2 separate regions of the Homo sapiens genome follow, and region 2 is linked to region 1. The links come from fine-mapping of genetic effects on gene expression. Tissue or cell type: spleen. Region 1 holds a variant in brackets; the other region holds the start of a gene. All regions are shown on one strand. Distances are from middle to middle.

Region 1 (8,000 bases):
CTGTGTTGAGTGACCTGCGCAGGGCCCTCTGGGAGAATGGGCGGCCTCTTCTCTTGGCCCCTGTGGCCTTTCCAAGAGCACCCCCTGGCTTGGCAGGGCAGGTGGGTGGGGACTGCACCGCCTCCTGCAGGGACGTGAGCCCGCACCTCCCGCGCCCTGCTCTATTATATTAGAACCCCCTGTGGGAGCTGGGGGACCGAGGTGTCGGGTGGCACCGTCCAGCCAGACCTGACTGCAGCGGGGCCTGGGTGCCCTGGCGCCGTGCGTCATGTTCCAAGTCTGGGTGGTGACGGTCCTTGCGCGCCCTCCTCGGATATTTATATCCCCTGGGCCCCTGCCCACTGCTCCCCTCCCCCACAAGCTGCTGCTGACAGCAGCACGGCCGTGCCCTCCTCCCACCCGACGCTGCCGCCAGTGGCTTGTGCCTCCTCCGAGGGGCCTGTGACCTCCCACACCCCTGGCCCGCTCCGTCTGCCCCGTGGGCTCCTGCCACCGTCCCCGATGAAGATCGTGCCCGGTAGGTGGGCAGCCCTTGAAAGCCTTGTGAAATCCTGGCCCCTTGCTGGGGACAGGGGCCAGAGGGCTGGGGCTGAGGCTGGAGGCCAGGGGCGCTGTCCCTCGCCCTGCACACAGCCTGCCTCATGTGCCCTCACCCAGACCCCCTCAGCCCTGGTCTGCAGTCTCACTTTTGGGGTGTTGGGGCTGGTGAGGAGGGCGAAGTTGAAGGAGTGCAGTGGGTTCAGCTGCAGGCTTGAGGTGGGGGCTCTGGCATCCCTCCATGCCTGCCAGCTGTCCCCAGAGGGCAGCCTTGGAGGCAGAGTGGGCTGCTCGGGCCCCTCTTCTGGTGGGGACAGCAGGGGGAGGCTGGGAGGGAGGGAGGGTGTGTGCCGAGGCCGCGGGCAGTGCTGGGGGGCTGCGGCTTGGCCAGGCGTGCGGCTGGCCCCTCCTCCCGGCGGGTGTGGCCGCGGGGACGCAGGGGTTAAGGCCAACTAACCTTGAGCGTCAGTAGCCCTGCGCAGGGACAGCTGAGCCGGCCGGGTGGGGAGCGAGGGTGGGGAGGCGCCGAGGGCCGGACCCGCGGAGGGAGGAGGAGAGGAGGCGGGCGGGAGCTGTTGTGGGGCTGCCGCCGCGTATGGGGCGGTCCTGCGGGCAGGGCAGGCTCCGGTCCCGGCGCTCCCCCTCGCTCGCCCTGCACGCAGGGAGGGGGCTGTCTAGCCTGGAGCAGCCGGTTCCCAGCGCAGGAAGGGCAGCCCTGGCGGCTCCGCGTGGCGGCTATGGAGCCCTCGGGCAGCCTGTTTCCCTCCCTGGTGGTTGTGGGTCACGTTGTCACCCTGGCCGCTGTGTGGCACTGGCGCAGGGGACGTCGGTGGGCGCAGGACGAGCAAGGTAAGCCCCGCTGGTGGCTGCCAGGGACTCGAGGCGGGGCAGAGGGGCCGCCTGCCTCCCGCCCCTTCATTCCCTGCGCCCTCCCCTTCCTGTTTCCAAGCTGAATGTCAGTGAAAGCAGTGTTGCCCCTCCACCCCACCCTGCAGTGTAGACCCTGACCCTGCTGCAGTCCCAGGGCGGGGCGGGCTCTGCAGTGGCCCTCAGCCTGCAGCCTGTGCGGGACAGGTGGGTGGAAGCGGAGGCCGGCAGGGCAGGAGCGTCCCCCACACGAAGGGAGGCCTGTGGCAGCCGCCGTGGCAGGGACAAGTGGGCAGGTGCCTGTCCGGCCAGCACTGAGGTGGAGGTGGCTCCCTGCACACACAGCAGGGGGTGGAGCCACACGCAGGTGAGGCAGGTGCCCTCATGCCCTCGGGCCGCACAGGGGGCGGGGGCAGCCAGGCTGTGCCCTGCCCTCCCTGCTCAAAGTCACCAGCTCCTGGGCTGTGGTCCCAGGTGGCAACCGTGCCCAGCACAGGATGGGGCGGGGCCCTGGGGATTGGGCAGCCTCAATTATGGGCTTCTGGCCAGAGGGACTGCCTATCGGGGACCTGGCTGGCCAGACCTCTCCTGCAGTGAGGGCGCTGCCTGGCTCAGCTCCTCTGCTGGATCCCCGGACTTGAGATGAGTCAAGATGGGGCTTCTAGGCGTGGCGCTGGGGACGCCCGGAGCTGCCGGGGACTCAGCTGCCAGGATGGGACTTGGGCTGAGGGCTTCTTCCCCATCCATGTTTTTGGCTGGGGACCAGACACTGTCCCTGCCTCCCCACCTCAGCCCACAATTGCCCCCTTCGGCCACGGTCCTGGCTCACAGGATGCCTCTACTCCCTGGTGGTGCCAGACGCGGCTCAGCTCCTCGGTTCTGCCTCCAGCGTTGTCTGCCCACCACCTGGCCCCATGCCCTGCCTTCCTCCCTGGGCCCTGCAGTCCCCACCGCACATCCTGCTGGGAGGCCCCCTCCCATGCCGCTTCAGTCCCAGGGCAGCCTCCCAGCCCGGCCCGTGGGTTGGGGCGCGGCTTCCTGGCTGCGCTGGGCGGGGCTGCGCGCCAGGGGCAGGTTCTTTGGGTCTGGGCCTCGCTCCCGCAGTGGGCGGATTGTGGGGGGGAGGTGGAAGAGGTGGAGAGCGAAGCCGGCAGCCTCGCAGCGTGGGCTGGAAGCAGAGGCGCCGCCGCGGTCCAGCTCCCCGCACTGTCCGTGGGCCGAACCAGGGCTCCGGCCGTGGCCGGCATGTCGGGGGCGGGGGGCGCCTTTGCCTCGCCGAGGGAGGTCTTGCTGGAGCGGCCGTGCTGGCTGGACGGGGGCTGCGAGCCGGCCCGCAGGGGCTACCTCTACCAGCAGCTGTGCTGCGTAGGTGGGTGCAGTGGCGTGGCCGGTGGCACAGAAGGGGCCACCATCGCTCTCACCTAGTGGGGCTGGGTCTCTGCTGGGAACCGCCGCCTGGGCTGGGATGGGGGTGGCGCCTTGGCCCGGTGCAGCCTTGCCCCCGAGCTCCGGAAACACCTGGGGAGGAAGGCGGGGTGATGTTCCCCTACCCCCATTTGTTTGTCTCTAGAGAAGGGGCTGGAGGGGGCGGGGCTGGAGGGGGCGGGGCTGGCCCACCCCCGGCTGTTCCACGTCAGCCTGGGCTTTGGCCTGGGTTTCCAGGACACGGGGGAGGGAGGAGGTGCTGAAGGCGGGGCTCCAGGCCTTCTGTGGACTTGCTGCAGTCCTGGGCCAGTGGGATTCCCTTCCCAGTCTTGGGGTTTCCATCCTAGGACCGTCTCCACTAGCTGCGGGACCTCAGCCATAGGGTCCACACCTGTAAAACGGGGGCGATACTCCTCAGAGGGCCACGGCAGTGCCTGTCGTGAGGGACCCTGGGCTGGCGGCCGAGGGTCAGCAGCCCTGGACAGCACAGGTGTCAGGCAGGTGTGCAGAGGCACCTGAGCTGGGGGTGTTCTGGGTGCGTCCCAGGTGGGAGAGCCAGCTGAGCTGCAGCTGTAGAGGGTGGGTGTAGCCTGGCTGGGTGGGGCGGGTGTGTCTGTTGGTTTTAGGGTCAGAATAGGATTGGATGGGGCGGGGCAGGCTGGGCTGGGAGGGAGGGGAGGTGATGAGGAGGGAAGAGCTCAGAGCAAAGAGGCACCCAGAGGCAGGAAGTAGGGAAGGGGAGCTTGAGCCAGGCTTGGGAGGTGGAGGCCCCTGACCGAGCCCCCAGCCCACCTGGTCCCAGCCCTGCCCCGCCCCAGCCCTTCTCCTCACCCGGTCCCAGCCTTGCCCGAGTCCGTGTCTGGAGTCCCCACCGTGCCCCTTCCCTTCCCTGAGCCCCTGCCCCATTCCTGACCCTGGCCCGGCCCAGGGCGGCATCTTTGGAGGCCTGTTAGTGGCAGGGAGAAGGCTGGAACAGGGGCCTGGCTGGGGTGGGCTCCACGTGGGTCCTGGACCTTGGCCCCGGCTCCCAGTTTCCAGCTGTCGTGGACTCCCTGTGCCCACCTCCCTGGCTGTTCCGGGATCTCACACTGTGCCTCAGCAGAGTGGCAGCCCCGTTCCTGCAGGCAGGAGCCACCTGGTCACGGCCGGGCCCCCAGAGCCCATACCCAGCAGGCGCGGGGCTTGGCCTCAGGGTAGCTGCTGGCCCAGGGCTTCTGAAGAGGCGACAGTGTTTCCAGAGGCTTTGGACCCAGGGAGGGGCGGCAGAGGTGTGGGGTCCGGGGTGCCCTTGGGCACAAGACTGGAGGTGCTGACCAGTGCGGGGTCAGATTTTGATTTGGGGGCTTCTGGTGACTCCTGAGGTTCTGGAGGCTGCTGGGCCGGACAGGCAGAGCAAGAGGGTCACCCTGAATCTCATGCCAGGCTCAGAGACCATGCATGGAGACCAAGGGGTGTCTTCGTTGGGCGGCGTGTACGATGTGGCAGAGCCCTAGGGGCTGGCTGTGCCCCTTGGCGTGGAGTGGGGGCTTCCCCACCTCTGAGGGGTTTGGGCACCCCCCATTGTGAGGGTTCTGG[T/C]GCCCCCTCACGGCCTCAGGGGCAGTAGGAATGAGGTGGGGTGAGCTCTTCCCAGAACTGAGGCCGAGTGCAGCTCCCAGCTGGACCGAATCTGCCTGATGTGCGGCTGGAACATTCTTGTGGTTGGGGCAGCGCATTCTTTCCTATGGTGGTCGGGTGGGCTGGGCAGGCCCAGAAGCTGGCCAGAGGCAGCTCCGCCCCGGACCCCAGGGAGCCGGAGGCCCCAGCCAGCGCAGGCCCTTTGCCCTTTGCCCTTTACAGCATGAGACTGCTTCCCTTGAGCCCCACCCAGCTGCAAACAGCACCCCCCACCCCTGGGGTCGCCCAGGTCCTGCCTCAGGTGTGGCTTCCCCTCTGTGAGTCACAGGCTTGGGCCCCCTCCCCATCCCTGACTCACTGGCGAGGCCCCTCCTGGGGCTTCCCGATGCTCCATTCCCCCATGAGGCCCGGCCTCCGTGAGTCAGCCCTCAGCTACGCGCCTCCGACGTGAGGTGTCTGCCTGGGGCAGGGTGGGCTCCGCAGGTGGGCACTGCTCCAGGATGTGCCAGGTGGGCAGCTTGGGAGGGGCCAGGCCTGGGGTGGGACCCCACTGGCCCCAGGGCCAGGGCAGGCACCATGGGGCAGGGTGTGCTCCCCGCTTCATGCAGGTCTGTGAAGAGGTGTGATTGGGGGGCTGCAAGAGCTGACAGGCAGCAGGTCCCCTCCCCTCGCCAGGTATCAGCGGCTTCTTGAGTCCGCCCTGGCAGGGTGGGTGGGCAGAGGCTGAAGCAGGGCCTGGCCCAGGCCTGGAGGGAGCTCCAAAGAGAGGCGTGGCCTCAGAGCCCCTCCCGTCGGGGGAGCCCTTCAGTCTGTTGGGGGGTCCTTCTGGGTGGCTGTGGGGACGGCCTGTGTTCCTCTGCGGTCCTGGCACCATTTGGTGTGCAGTGAAGTGCCAGCTCCCCGTGTCCCCAGGTCCCCCTAGGGGGCTGCAGTGGTCGGGGTGGGTGAGGAAACCCCGGTTTCCTGTTTCTGGCGGGCCGAGGGCGTGTCTGTGGGGGAGGGGGCTGCTTGCTCCTTCCCGCCGGGACACTCCCCTCCCTGGCGGCGGCCTGGGCAGGGTGGGGCCTCGGGGGCGGGCCGGCCTCGCCGGGGAGTACAGCAGGCAGGGAGTGGCCGCACCGACTGGGGCTCTGAGCTGAGCCTGTGCCGAGTGAGCGTCTCGTGGGGCCGCCAGCCTTCAGCTGCCTGTGTGCCACACGGGGCTGCCCAGAGCACCGTGCCTGAGGCCGAGGGTCCGGGCGACGAAGGTGTGGGGGCAGCATGTCTCAGCACCAGCTCCGCGTGCCGCAGCCCGAGGGCCTGGGCCGAAAGAGAACCAGCTCGGAGGACAACCTGTACCTGGCTGTGCTCAGGGCCTCTGAGGGCAAGAAAGGTAGCAGGGCTCCCCTCGGGCACCCCCGCCAGGCAGGGCGGGCCCCTGCGGGAGGAAGGCCCACTTCCTGTGGCAGGAAAGCCTTGGCACCGCTGGGGGGCTGGTCTTGGAGATGGGGGTCGGGGGCCAGCCATCCCCACCCAACACGGAGTGGGCCGACAGGCGCCCGCGAGGCTGACGGGGGCCTCCGAGCGTCAGATGTCGGGCCTGGAAGGGCGAGGAACTCTGCGCTCTGGGGAAGGTTCGCTGCCCTGTCAGCAGCACACGCGGCTTCCCTTCCAACACCCCAGCGGGCCCGGGCCCTGGCTCTGCCACACCCCTGCTTGGGTCTCAGTCTGTAGAGGCCGGGGGGGACTGCAGGACGGGACTTGTGTGCCCTGGGCTCAGGGTGCGCCCAGGACCCTCCCATTTCCTCGGGGGAAGAGTCCGGGGTGGGGTGGCTGCACCTGGTGGCGCCTGGGCCCCTGGCACCTGGGTCTCTGCTGTGTGGCTGGGCTGCGGGTGAGGGCGCCTGGGTCTCAGTGTGTGATCTGAGGGAGGCTTTGGGGCTCCCCAGGCAGGACCTGGCCAGCCAGGCTGCTGTGTCTGCACGGTGGTCACCTGAGGGCCCCCGGGGCTTCTCCCAGGCCCCAGGTAAGCTGGTCTTGTCTCCCCCAGATGAGCGGGATCGTGTGCAGAAGAAAACCTTCACCAAGTGGGTCAACAAGCACCTCATCAAGGTTGGTGGCGCATGCTGGTGCGTGTCACAGGGGCTGAGGCTGTGGGAGGCGCTGAGGGAGGGTGGCCCCTGCCGCCCAAGGCTGTCCCCATGCTGCCTGTGTGCTCACCTTTCATCTCTGAAACCTGTTATTTTCTGTCCTCTTTCTTCCCTACGCCTGCTCCTGCCTCTCTCTTCCTCCTCTTCCTTCTGGTCTTTCCTGGTCTCTCCTTGCAGCACTGGCGGGCAGAGGTAGGTGCCTCCGTGGGGCAGGGTGTGTTCCGTGGGCTCCCGGGAGACTCAGCCCCCGCCTCCTTCCCTCTGGGACCAGCACCCACTCTGTAGATCAGCCACTCAGGGCCTATTGGTGGCTCTGGGGGACTGGCCACCTCAGCCGCTGCTGTCCCCACAGGCCCAGAGGCACATCAGTGACCTGTATGAAGACCTCCGCGATGGCCACAACCTCATCTCCCTGCTGGAGGTCCTCTCGGGGGACAGCCTGGTACGTGTGCCCCTGCCCCCTCCGGGCCCCGCCTGCCCCACCTGGAGACCTCTGCCTGCCTTCCCTCCTTGGGGCCTCTCCGGCCGCCCACTCTACTTGGAATCCAGCTCAACCCCTCCTGCCTTCTCCCTGGGGGCAGGCTGGCCTCGTCCCTGGCAGCACCTCCCGCCCAGGCTGCTGGGCATCACAGCCGAGGGCCTGGCCTGGGAGTGGCCGCAACCCTCGGACCTCGGCTGCTCTGGGCCTTGCCGCCCTCCGCGTCGGGACACAGTAACCTCATGCTCCGCTTTGCTTTGGTTTCTCTGCTGCTTGGACTCTGAACCTTGACCTCTGCCCTTTACCCTTTGCCCTGCTCTGGCCGGGCAGCCGAGGGAGCGGGACGTAAGCAGGAGCTCACGCCTGGTGAGTGGCTGTGCCTGCCGGCTGCAGCGGCACGGGAGCTCCCCAAGACCGTGGAGCCCGGCTTTCTGGGGGCTGGTGGCCCGTCGGCCAACCCCTGCCTGGCTCTTGGGCGGGTAGGTGGTTGGGTGTCAAGCTGCCCGTCCACCGTGCTGCCCAGAGCTGGCCTGGGACCCACCGGTGGCTGCTGTGGCTGCCACCGCCAGGCAGGAGGACCCCCCCTTTAGTGCCACTGCCCTCCACACGAGGCTTCCTGGCTATTGTCTCCTCCCACCCCTTCCTTCCTTCCCTCAGCCTGGGTCGCTGGACTTCCCGAGCCCTGATGGGCCTGGCCTGGCCCCTGGGCCGGTGGCCTCCCTTTCCCTGCGGGGGAGGGTGAACCTGGGATGAGGGGCTGCTGCCCCCTGGGGAAGACCCTTGGCTCGGTTGCTGCGGCGCTTTGGGGCATGCTGAGGGTGGGGCCCGGGAGCTGCAGCTGCACTGTGGGTGCTGACTGTGCCTCCCCACAGCCCCGGGAGAAGGGGAGGATGCGTTTCCACAAGCTGCAGAATGTCCAGATTGCCCTGGACTACCTCCGGCACCGCCAG
Region 2 (8,000 bases), 490 kb before region 1:
GCTAGTGTCCTGTGGTCCCCATCCCGTGCTCGCCAGCTGAGTGCTGTTCGCCTGAGGCAGTTCCACTGTGAGCCCACTCAGGCTGCAGAGACTGGGGTCCCAGTGCCAAGAGGCTGGGAATTGGGTGTCATCCAGGGGGAGTGTAAGGGGGGCAGCAATGGTCAGTGCACTCCCCTGGCACCCCCACTGTGCAGAGGCATGTGGCCCAGGACCGTGTGGTTGTGGGGTGGGAGAGGGCAAGTTGTCCAGAACTGGGGGCAGCCGAGCTTGGAAGTCTGGCCCCGCCCTCCCAGCTGGGAGAATCTGGGCGAGAGCCTTTGCCTCTGCACTTGCCACCCCACCCTGCGAGCACTGCGGTAGTGGTTTCCCCAAAGGGGTCCTGAGGGTTCTGGGCCCAGAACTTGGGGTGGGTACAGGGCTGTGGCCACGTGGGGCTGACGGATTCTGGCCCCGGTGCAGATGCTGAGCACCTGAAGACCCTGTCCCTGTCCTACAACGCCCTGGGAGCCCCTGCCCTGGCCAGGACCCTGCAGAGCCTGCCCGCCGGCACCCTCCTGCACTTAGAGCTCAGCTCCGTGGCAGCCGGCAAGGGTGATTCGGACCTCATGGAGCCTGTATTCCGATACCTGGCCAAGGTACGAGGTGGGGAAGAACCCAGAAAATACTGAGCCTCAGAGGCCAAAGGTCCCAGGGTTGCTGGGAGGAGCTCGCCTCTCCCCAGATTCGGGCTGAACTCGCTGAGGGGCTCTACAGAGAGAGTTAGAGGTTTGGAGGTTTAGAAAAAACAGCTGGGGGGCCAGGCGCGGTGGCTCACGCCTGTAATCCCAGTACTTTGGGAGGCCGAAGGGGGTGGATCACAAGGTCAGGAGTTCAAAAGCAGCCTGGCCAACATGGTGAAACCTTGTCTCTAGTAAAAATACAAAAATTACCCAGGCGTGGTGGCGGGTACCTGTAATCCCAGCTACTCGGGATGCTGAGGCAGAGAATTGGTTGAACCCGGGAGGCAGAGGTTGCAGTGAGCCTAGATTGCACCATTGCACCCAGCCTGGGTGACAGAGCGAGATTCCGTCTCAAAAAAAAAAAAAAAGAAAGAAAAAGAAAAAAACAGGCTGGGCGTGGTAGCTTACGCCTGTAATCCCAGCACTTTGGGAGGCCGAGGCGGGCGGATCACGAGGTCAGGAGATCAAGACCATCCTGGCTAACATGGTGAAACACCATCTCTACTAAAAAATACAAAAAATTAGCCGGGCGTGGTGACGGGCTCCTGGAGTCCCAGCTACTTGGGAGACAGGCAGGAGAACAGCGTGAACCCGGGAGGCGGAGCTTGCAGTGAGCCGAGATGGCGCCACCGCACTCCACCCTGGGCGACAGAGCGAGACTCTGTCTCAAAAAAAAAACAAAAAAAGAAAAAAACAGCTGGGGGAATGCTTTTGTACAGCTGCCTGTCTCAGGCTGTGAATTCCTGCCCACCAGATAGGACCCGGGACTCAGGGTGATCTTGCCCCCCGCCAGGAAGGTCCCAAGGGGCACACTAGGGCCCCTGATGCTCTCTCCTGGGGGGTCTTCCAGGCACAACTGGGACCCTATTATTTTCACACTATCACGTGCAGAGTGTGACCCACATCAGGAGAGGTGTTTCCTTCCGATCTCCAACTTGATGGGGGACTCTGCTCCCTTCTGGGCCCCTGGGTGTGGTGCACCTGCTGGGAAGCAGGCAGGGCAGGTGCGCCACTCCGTTTGGCCCCCTTGGGCCTCTGCTCATGTCCAGGAAGGCTGTGCTCTAGCCCACCTGACCCTGTCTGCAAACCACCTGGGGGACAAGGCTGTTAGAGACCTGTGCAGGTAACGCCCTTTCCCTGCTGCCTGCTGACCTGGGGGTCTGATCTCATGGCTCTGGACCCTATGGGAGAAGGGCCACAGAAATGGTACCAGCTCCTCCTCCCCAGCACATCCCAAGACCTGGCTCCTTCGGTTTCCACCAGCCTCTCAGGCTGCCCTGGAAGGCAGACTACCCTCTGGCTTCTTTCTTAGCATGGGCCTGTGGCTCTTGAGAGCACTCCTCCGGGGGTGTCCTTGTCATTCCTGTGCCTCGGCCCACATGAGGGCACTGCTCTTATGACCTGGAGCCTCAGTCAGCTCTCTGGGGAGTGTTGAGAGGAGCCCAAGCTGGGCCAGGCACACCCAGAGCTGGCCACTGTGGCCCTGACCCCTGGGAAGGACCCCCAACCCTAGAGGGCCACCTGCTACTGGGCCAGGCTGAGGCAGAGCCCCTGGGTCTGGCCCGAGGCTCCCTGAGCTGGCATTTGTCTGGGCAGCTTTCCTAGTGTTGGGGCACAGCCTCTCTGGAAGCCAACCTTTGCACTTCTTCCCATGTTATCTCAGATGTCTCTCTCTGTGCCCCTCACTCATCTCACTGGATCTGTCTGCCAACCCTGAGATCAGCTGTGCCAGCTTGGAAGAGCTCCTGTCCACCCTCCAAAAGCGGCCCCAAGGCCTTAGCTTCCTTGGCCTGTCAGGTGAGTGCTGGTATGGTGGCCACGCCTGCCATGTTCGGCCTTTTCAGGGACCTGCCTGAGACCCAGGTGCCTCCTCCTAAGGGGCTGTCACTGCTACCAGCCAGGCAGCAAGGCTGGGCTCCATGAGGCTGGGGCAGCAGGGGGCAGAGTGACAGTGACAGAAAAGGGGCATGATCCCAGCTCCTAAAACCATGGGTTAGGGGGCGAGGTGGGTATCTGCCTCTGGTCTCTCCAACCCAACCTTCAGAGCAGACTATGGTAGGCAAGACCCTGTTCCACAGGGACTTTCTTCTTGTCCCTGGCAGGAAAAGGGATCCCAAGGTCAGGGTGTTGAAAGCTGCCAAGGGACCCTCCTACTTCCTGGCAGGGGCTCCTCTGACACAACCCTGCCCAGGGCTGTGGTCTGATTTAGCTTGTTCTCTCTTGAGCCACATCAGGGCAGTCCCCAACCTGAGCTGTCTGGAAGACAACCCCAGGAAGGGCTTTGATGACCTGGCTTGCCCCACTGGGGCCGGGGCAGGCTGTGCCCTCCAGGGGATGAGGGCTTAAGTGAATGTGCACGAAGCGGGGCTCTGCTTTCTTCCTGTGCCCCCTCCCCTTCACCTCCCAGGGCCAGGCCGCCTTTTCCAGGAAGGCCCCCGAGTGCTGGTGTGAGACCCCTTCCCCACACCTCAGTTCCTGGCATCTGTACCTTCCCACCCAGCTCCCTGAATTCCTGAGCTTAGTGTTCTCTTGATCCACTCAGGCCCACGATGTACAGATTTGCAAGCAGATCCATTATGTCCTTCTTATGGGTGGGGAGACTGACGTGTAGGCATGGACTTTGAGATCGGGCACTGTCAGAGGTAAAGAAGGGAGCCACCCTTCCTCCTGTCTGACCGCTGGCTGTGCAGATGATCCCACCCCTTCCTGGAGAGTCATGGGGCCTCTCCGGAGCTCTGCCCACTGCCCCTCGCTACAGCCCTGGGGCCCTCAGCGAAAGCGAGTTTGTTCCCTGGAGCCTGCCGCGGGCACCAGGACGCCGCCGGCCCCCGCAGCGCTGAGGTCTGCCCTCTTCCCCTCCGCAGGCTGCGCCGTCCAGGGTCCCCTGGGCCTGGGCCTGTGGGACAAGATAGCCGCGCAGCTCCGGGAACTGCAGCTGTGCAGCAGACGCCTCTGCGCTGAGGACAGGGACGCCCTGCGCCAGCTGCAGCCCAGTCGGCCGGGCCCCGGCGAGTGCACGCTGGACCACGGCTCCAAGCTCTTCTTTCGGCGCCTCTGACCCTGGCGCTGCCTTTCCCCACCCTCACCGAAGCCCCTAATAAATGAAGCTGCTGGCCGGGCGCGGTGGCTCACGCCTGTAATCCCAACACTTTGGGAGGCCCAGGCGGGCGGATCACGAGGTCAGGAGATCGAGACCATCCTGGCTAACATGGTGAAACCCCGTCTCTACTAAAAATACCAAAAATTAGCCGGGCGTGGTGGTGGAAGCCTGTAGTCCCAGCTACTCCGGAGGCTGAGGCAGGAGAATGGCGTGAACCCGGGAGGCGGAGCTTGCAGTGAGCCGAGATCGCACCACTGCACTCCAGCCTGGGCGACAGACCGAGACTCCGTCTCAAAAAAAAAAAAAAATAAAATAAATGAAGCTGCTGCCTCCCTCCCCGTGGCTGCCTGGCAGGCGGGTGGGCGGGGTAAGACCGGGCTTCGAGTCTGCTGCGCCGGTTACGTCCCGGGGGCTGCGCGGCTGGAGGGAATGTCCCGAAGTCCGGGCGGGCGCGGGCGCAGGCGTGAGGGCTGAGCGCCGAGCTGCCGATGGGGACGGAGGGGCGGGGGGTCGCCCCGACGCGCGCAGGCGCAGACATGAGGGGCGAATGCCGAGTCGCTGACCGAGCGCACCCCGCCCCCGGCGCCATCTTCCCGACCGCGAGCCGTCCAGGTACCCGGGGCCCGGCCGGTGGGCGGGGAAGGGGCAGAGTGGGGAGAGGCGACTCAGGGCCTGGCACCCTCTGGGCGCGCCTAGGCCCCGGCACAGCTTCGGCTGAGCGCCGCAAAAGTCACGTTATTGGCATGTTCTAGAAACTGGCTTTCCTTGCTCGTTGTCCACTCTGCGAGGTTGTTTTGCACATTTGCTTGTGGCCGCAGAACGTCCGCTTTCGCTGTTAGGCAGAAGCTCCTGCGTGGTTGGGGCGGTTGGCTCCTCGGCGCTCTCCTGCCTGGCGGCTCCGTGACGGCTGCCGAGCAGCCTCGGTCCCCACCCCGCGGCTCGCAATGGCCTCGACCCTCGGAGAGCTTGACCCAGACGTTCCCTACCTACATGAGCGGCGACGCCCTTTCCCGGCTCTTCCTCGGCTGGGGCGCCCCAGGGCTTCGGCGCGGGCGGCCTTCCCTCACTTCTGCTCTTCTCCCATCCCCGGTAGCACCGTCCACTCCCAGTTAGCCGGCTCAGCGCTGCTCTCCCGGGCCTCTCCACCGAGAGCTTCCTGCGCCTGCCCGCCAGGCCCGCTCCTCCTCCCCTCTCCGTCTGAGTTTATCTTACTGCCCGGCCCATTGGGCCAAAAACAGGGGTGTCGTTCGTAACTCCTTTATTTTAATCCTATCTCAAATCCCTCGGCGGATCTGACGGCTCCACTTTCAAAGAGAGAACGTCTGGAGCTGGCCCAGCTTCCGTGCTAGGCAGGACCCTCCCACGGGCCCCGCTCCCATTGTTTCTCCACAGCTCGCTGCCCAACTAGGGGCACCTCTCCATCTTCATTCCCTAGGACCCCCTCTTTCGAGAAGCTGCACCTTCAGCTTGTTGGTTCCTCCAAGTTCATGCCTACTTAAAGGCGGGCTGTTAAGTGTGTTGTTTCCTGTGCCCCAAACTCTCCTCGTGGGCCATCAAACAGCTGCCTGCCGCCCTCATAACCTCCCTCAACCTCCAGCTTGAACCACACTCCACTGCAGCCCCCGCCCCGCTCTCCTGAGTGTCCATAGTACCTCACTTTTTCTGGTAGCCCCTATAGCACCCTGTGTGTTCACCATTATTGAGCTTAGGAGAGCTCTTCATGGAGCCCTGGGTCTCCAGGACCTGGCACTTACGGGCTGTCTTTTTTTGTCGGTTTTTTTTGTTGTTCGTTTGTTTGTTTTGAGACAGGGTCTTGCTCTGTCTCCCAGGCTGGAGTGCAGTGGCTCGGTCTTGGCTCATTGAAACCTTCACCTCCTGGGTTCAAGCGATTCTCCTGCCTCAGCCTCCTGAGTAGCTGGGATTACAACCGTATGCCACAACGTCCGGCTAATTTTGTAATTTTAGTAGAGACAGGGTTTCACCATGTTGGCCAGGCTGGTCTCAAACTCCTGACCTCAGGTGATCCGCTCACCTCGGCCTCCCAAAGTGCTGGGATTACAGGTGTGAGCCAGCGCCTGGCTTAGGGGCCATCTTTGAGTCGGCCCTGGCTCTGCTCCCCAGGTCTCAGTGCTGTGCCCCCCCCAGAGCCTAGAGGATGTTTCATGGGATCCCAGCCACGCCGGGCATAGGAGGTGAGTGTGGCTGGAAGGGCGCAGGCTTTCAGCCGCTTCTGCAGGGGCTGACGGGCAGTATTGGGTATTGGGGATCGGGGGTGGGGAGGTATCTGACCCTGCTCTCGTACAGCCTTGGGGGTGGCCAGGGGCTAAATAGTTCATTGCAGGAGCACTGAGGGCTCAGAAACCTCCAGACAGAACTGGCTTGGTCCTGCTGGGCAGAGATGATGAGCTTCGGTGTGGCCAGAACGGTGGGGGTCCTGGGCACCCTGTGTCACCAATCCCAGGGGAGAGGCTGTGTGTGGTGAGCCTTGTTGGCACTGCATCATGAGCCACGAGCAGGGCGTGGCCACTGTTGTGCAGGTGACTCCGCCAGGGAGCCATGGTGGAGCTGGGGAGCTGGGCCTGTCATGCGGTCCCCCGGGGAGCCGCAGTGGAGCTGGGGAGCTGGGCCTGTCATGCGGTCCCCCGGGGAGCCGCAGTGGAGCTGGGGAGCTGGGCCTGTCATGCGGCCCCCGGCTTCTCAGAGGTGTTATCATCAGGTCCCCCCACACACTGATAGGGGTGAGGTTGGAACCTCTGTGCTCCAGCTCCCTCTGGGCTCTTTGGGACCCAGCCTGGGAGGCCTCAGGGAGGAACTGAAATGGAGACTGGGACTGGAGTCTGCCCTTGGGTTCCCTTTGGGGCCAGCCTGCCAGCTCTCTGCCTTCTCTTGCAGCCCCTGGGAACAAGCCGGAGCTGTATGAGGTGAGTGGTGGGTGCCCACCCGGCCGGCATTGGCCAACAGCAAATGCCTGTGTGGCCTCACCAGGGTCCTGCAGCCCCTGTTGGCACTGGCCCACAGAGCCCGCTCTCTCCGGCAGGAAGTGAAGTTGTACAAGAACGCCCGGGAGAGGGAGAAGTAAGTCCAGGCGCCCAGGCTGTCCCAACACACCCATGCGCATCTGGCTGCCCTGGGGCAGCCCCTCCAGACCCACCCCAAACTGAGGGGTGGGAGGACGCAGGGTCAGTCTGGGGAACTGTTCCTGAGGCACTCCAGGATGGAGCAAGAGGTGGGCAGAGCGCCCGCAGTGGCACCTCCGGGCAGGGGGTAGCACTCTGGGCTCTAGGCTTGGCACCCCGGGGCCTGGCCCGATAGACAGGTGTGTCCTCAGGTACGACAACATGGCAGAGCTGTTTGCGGTGGTGAAGACAATGCAAGCCCTGGAGAAGGCCTACATCAAGGACTGTGTCTCCCCCAGCGAGTAAGAGCCCACGTCCTGGGAGGTCTGTTCCTGCCCTGGGGGGCTTGGGTGCTCCATAGGCAGCAAGAGCAGGCGTCTGTCAGGCTGGGAGGCACCCACTTGTGTGGGGCCCACCCAGCGTGAGGAGGGTGCCCCTGGGTCTCAGCCAGGGAAGTCCTGGGGGCTGGTGAGGGAGGCGGGCAGAGGCGCAGCTCCTGGGGTGTCATCCGGCCCACTCCCCCACCCTCATCCCCCAGCACAGGCAACCTTAAAAAACGGTCGAGAGGCTTGGGGATGTCCCAGGATCTTTTGGGGGGGCTTTGTTCAATGAAGTGACAAGACCGTCACAGGCCACCGCACAGGACCATGAGCTGTGGATGCGGCCATCACAACAGAGGGCTGGTCGCTGTGGTTCAGAGGGTGGGCAGGGGTTGGGGGCCGGGGTCTCCACCTGGAGCCGAGCTACAAGCCCCACTACGTGCTCAGGGCCTCACCCCCAAAAGCTACTAGCAGCCCCTCCTCCTTGCTCGGCCTGCCTTTGCCTGTCGCCTGGTCCTCTCTGGAAGCTGCTTTGCCTCTGGACCAGCCGAGGGGGTAGGATGAGCTGGGTGGGGCTGGTCCCATGCTTGGGCAGCAGCTGACCTCTCCCTAGGTACACTGCAGCCTGCTCCCGGCTCCTGGTCCAATACAAAGCTGCCTTCAGGCAGGTCCAGGGCTCAGAAATCAGCTCTATTGACGAATTCTGCCGCAAGTTCCGCGTGAGTGCCTGGTCCTTCCACCCCCA

The links. PIP is the estimated chance that this variant, and not a neighbour inherited with it, causes the effect.
Region 2: VPS28 starts here. The variant in region 1 is fine-mapped to the expression of VPS28 in spleen (GTEx, PIP 0.93).

The regions. Positions count from the first base shown.
Region 1 is chr8:143,937,165-143,945,164 of GRCh38, reverse strand. It overlaps PLEC (plectin), which reads left to right and starts at 5,568. Exons shown (of 32, transcript NM_201384.3): 1 at 5,568-5,815; 2 at 6,473-6,534; 3 at 6,925-7,014; 4 at 7,923-8,000. The coding sequence starts at 5,704. It overlaps LOC124902040 (a long non-coding RNA gene), which reads right to left and starts at 1,301. Exons shown (of 2, transcript XR_007061144.1): 1 at 995-1,301. RefSeq lists silencers at 985-1,254, 2,325-2,784, 3,005-3,094, 5,342-5,571, 5,852-5,951 and enhancers at 1,855-2,104, 4,650-4,944, 5,122-5,181, 5,592-5,831. The variant T/C (reference allele first, on the strand shown) is at 4,405.
Region 2 is chr8:144,424,920-144,432,919 of GRCh38, reverse strand. VPS28 (VPS28 subunit of ESCRT-I) reads left to right here and starts at 4,372. Exons shown (of 10, transcript NM_016208.4): 1 at 4,372-4,431; 2 at 5,941-6,011; 3 at 6,712-6,740; 4 at 6,857-6,894; 5 at 7,148-7,237; 6 at 7,869-7,974. The coding sequence starts at 5,975. TONSL (tonsoku like, DNA repair protein) reads left to right here. Exons shown (of 26, transcript NM_013432.5): 23 at 460-635; 24 at 1,769-1,842; 25 at 2,383-2,516; 26 at 3,584-4,145. The coding sequence ends at 3,777. RefSeq lists a silencer at 4,197-4,546 and an enhancer at 6,277-7,040.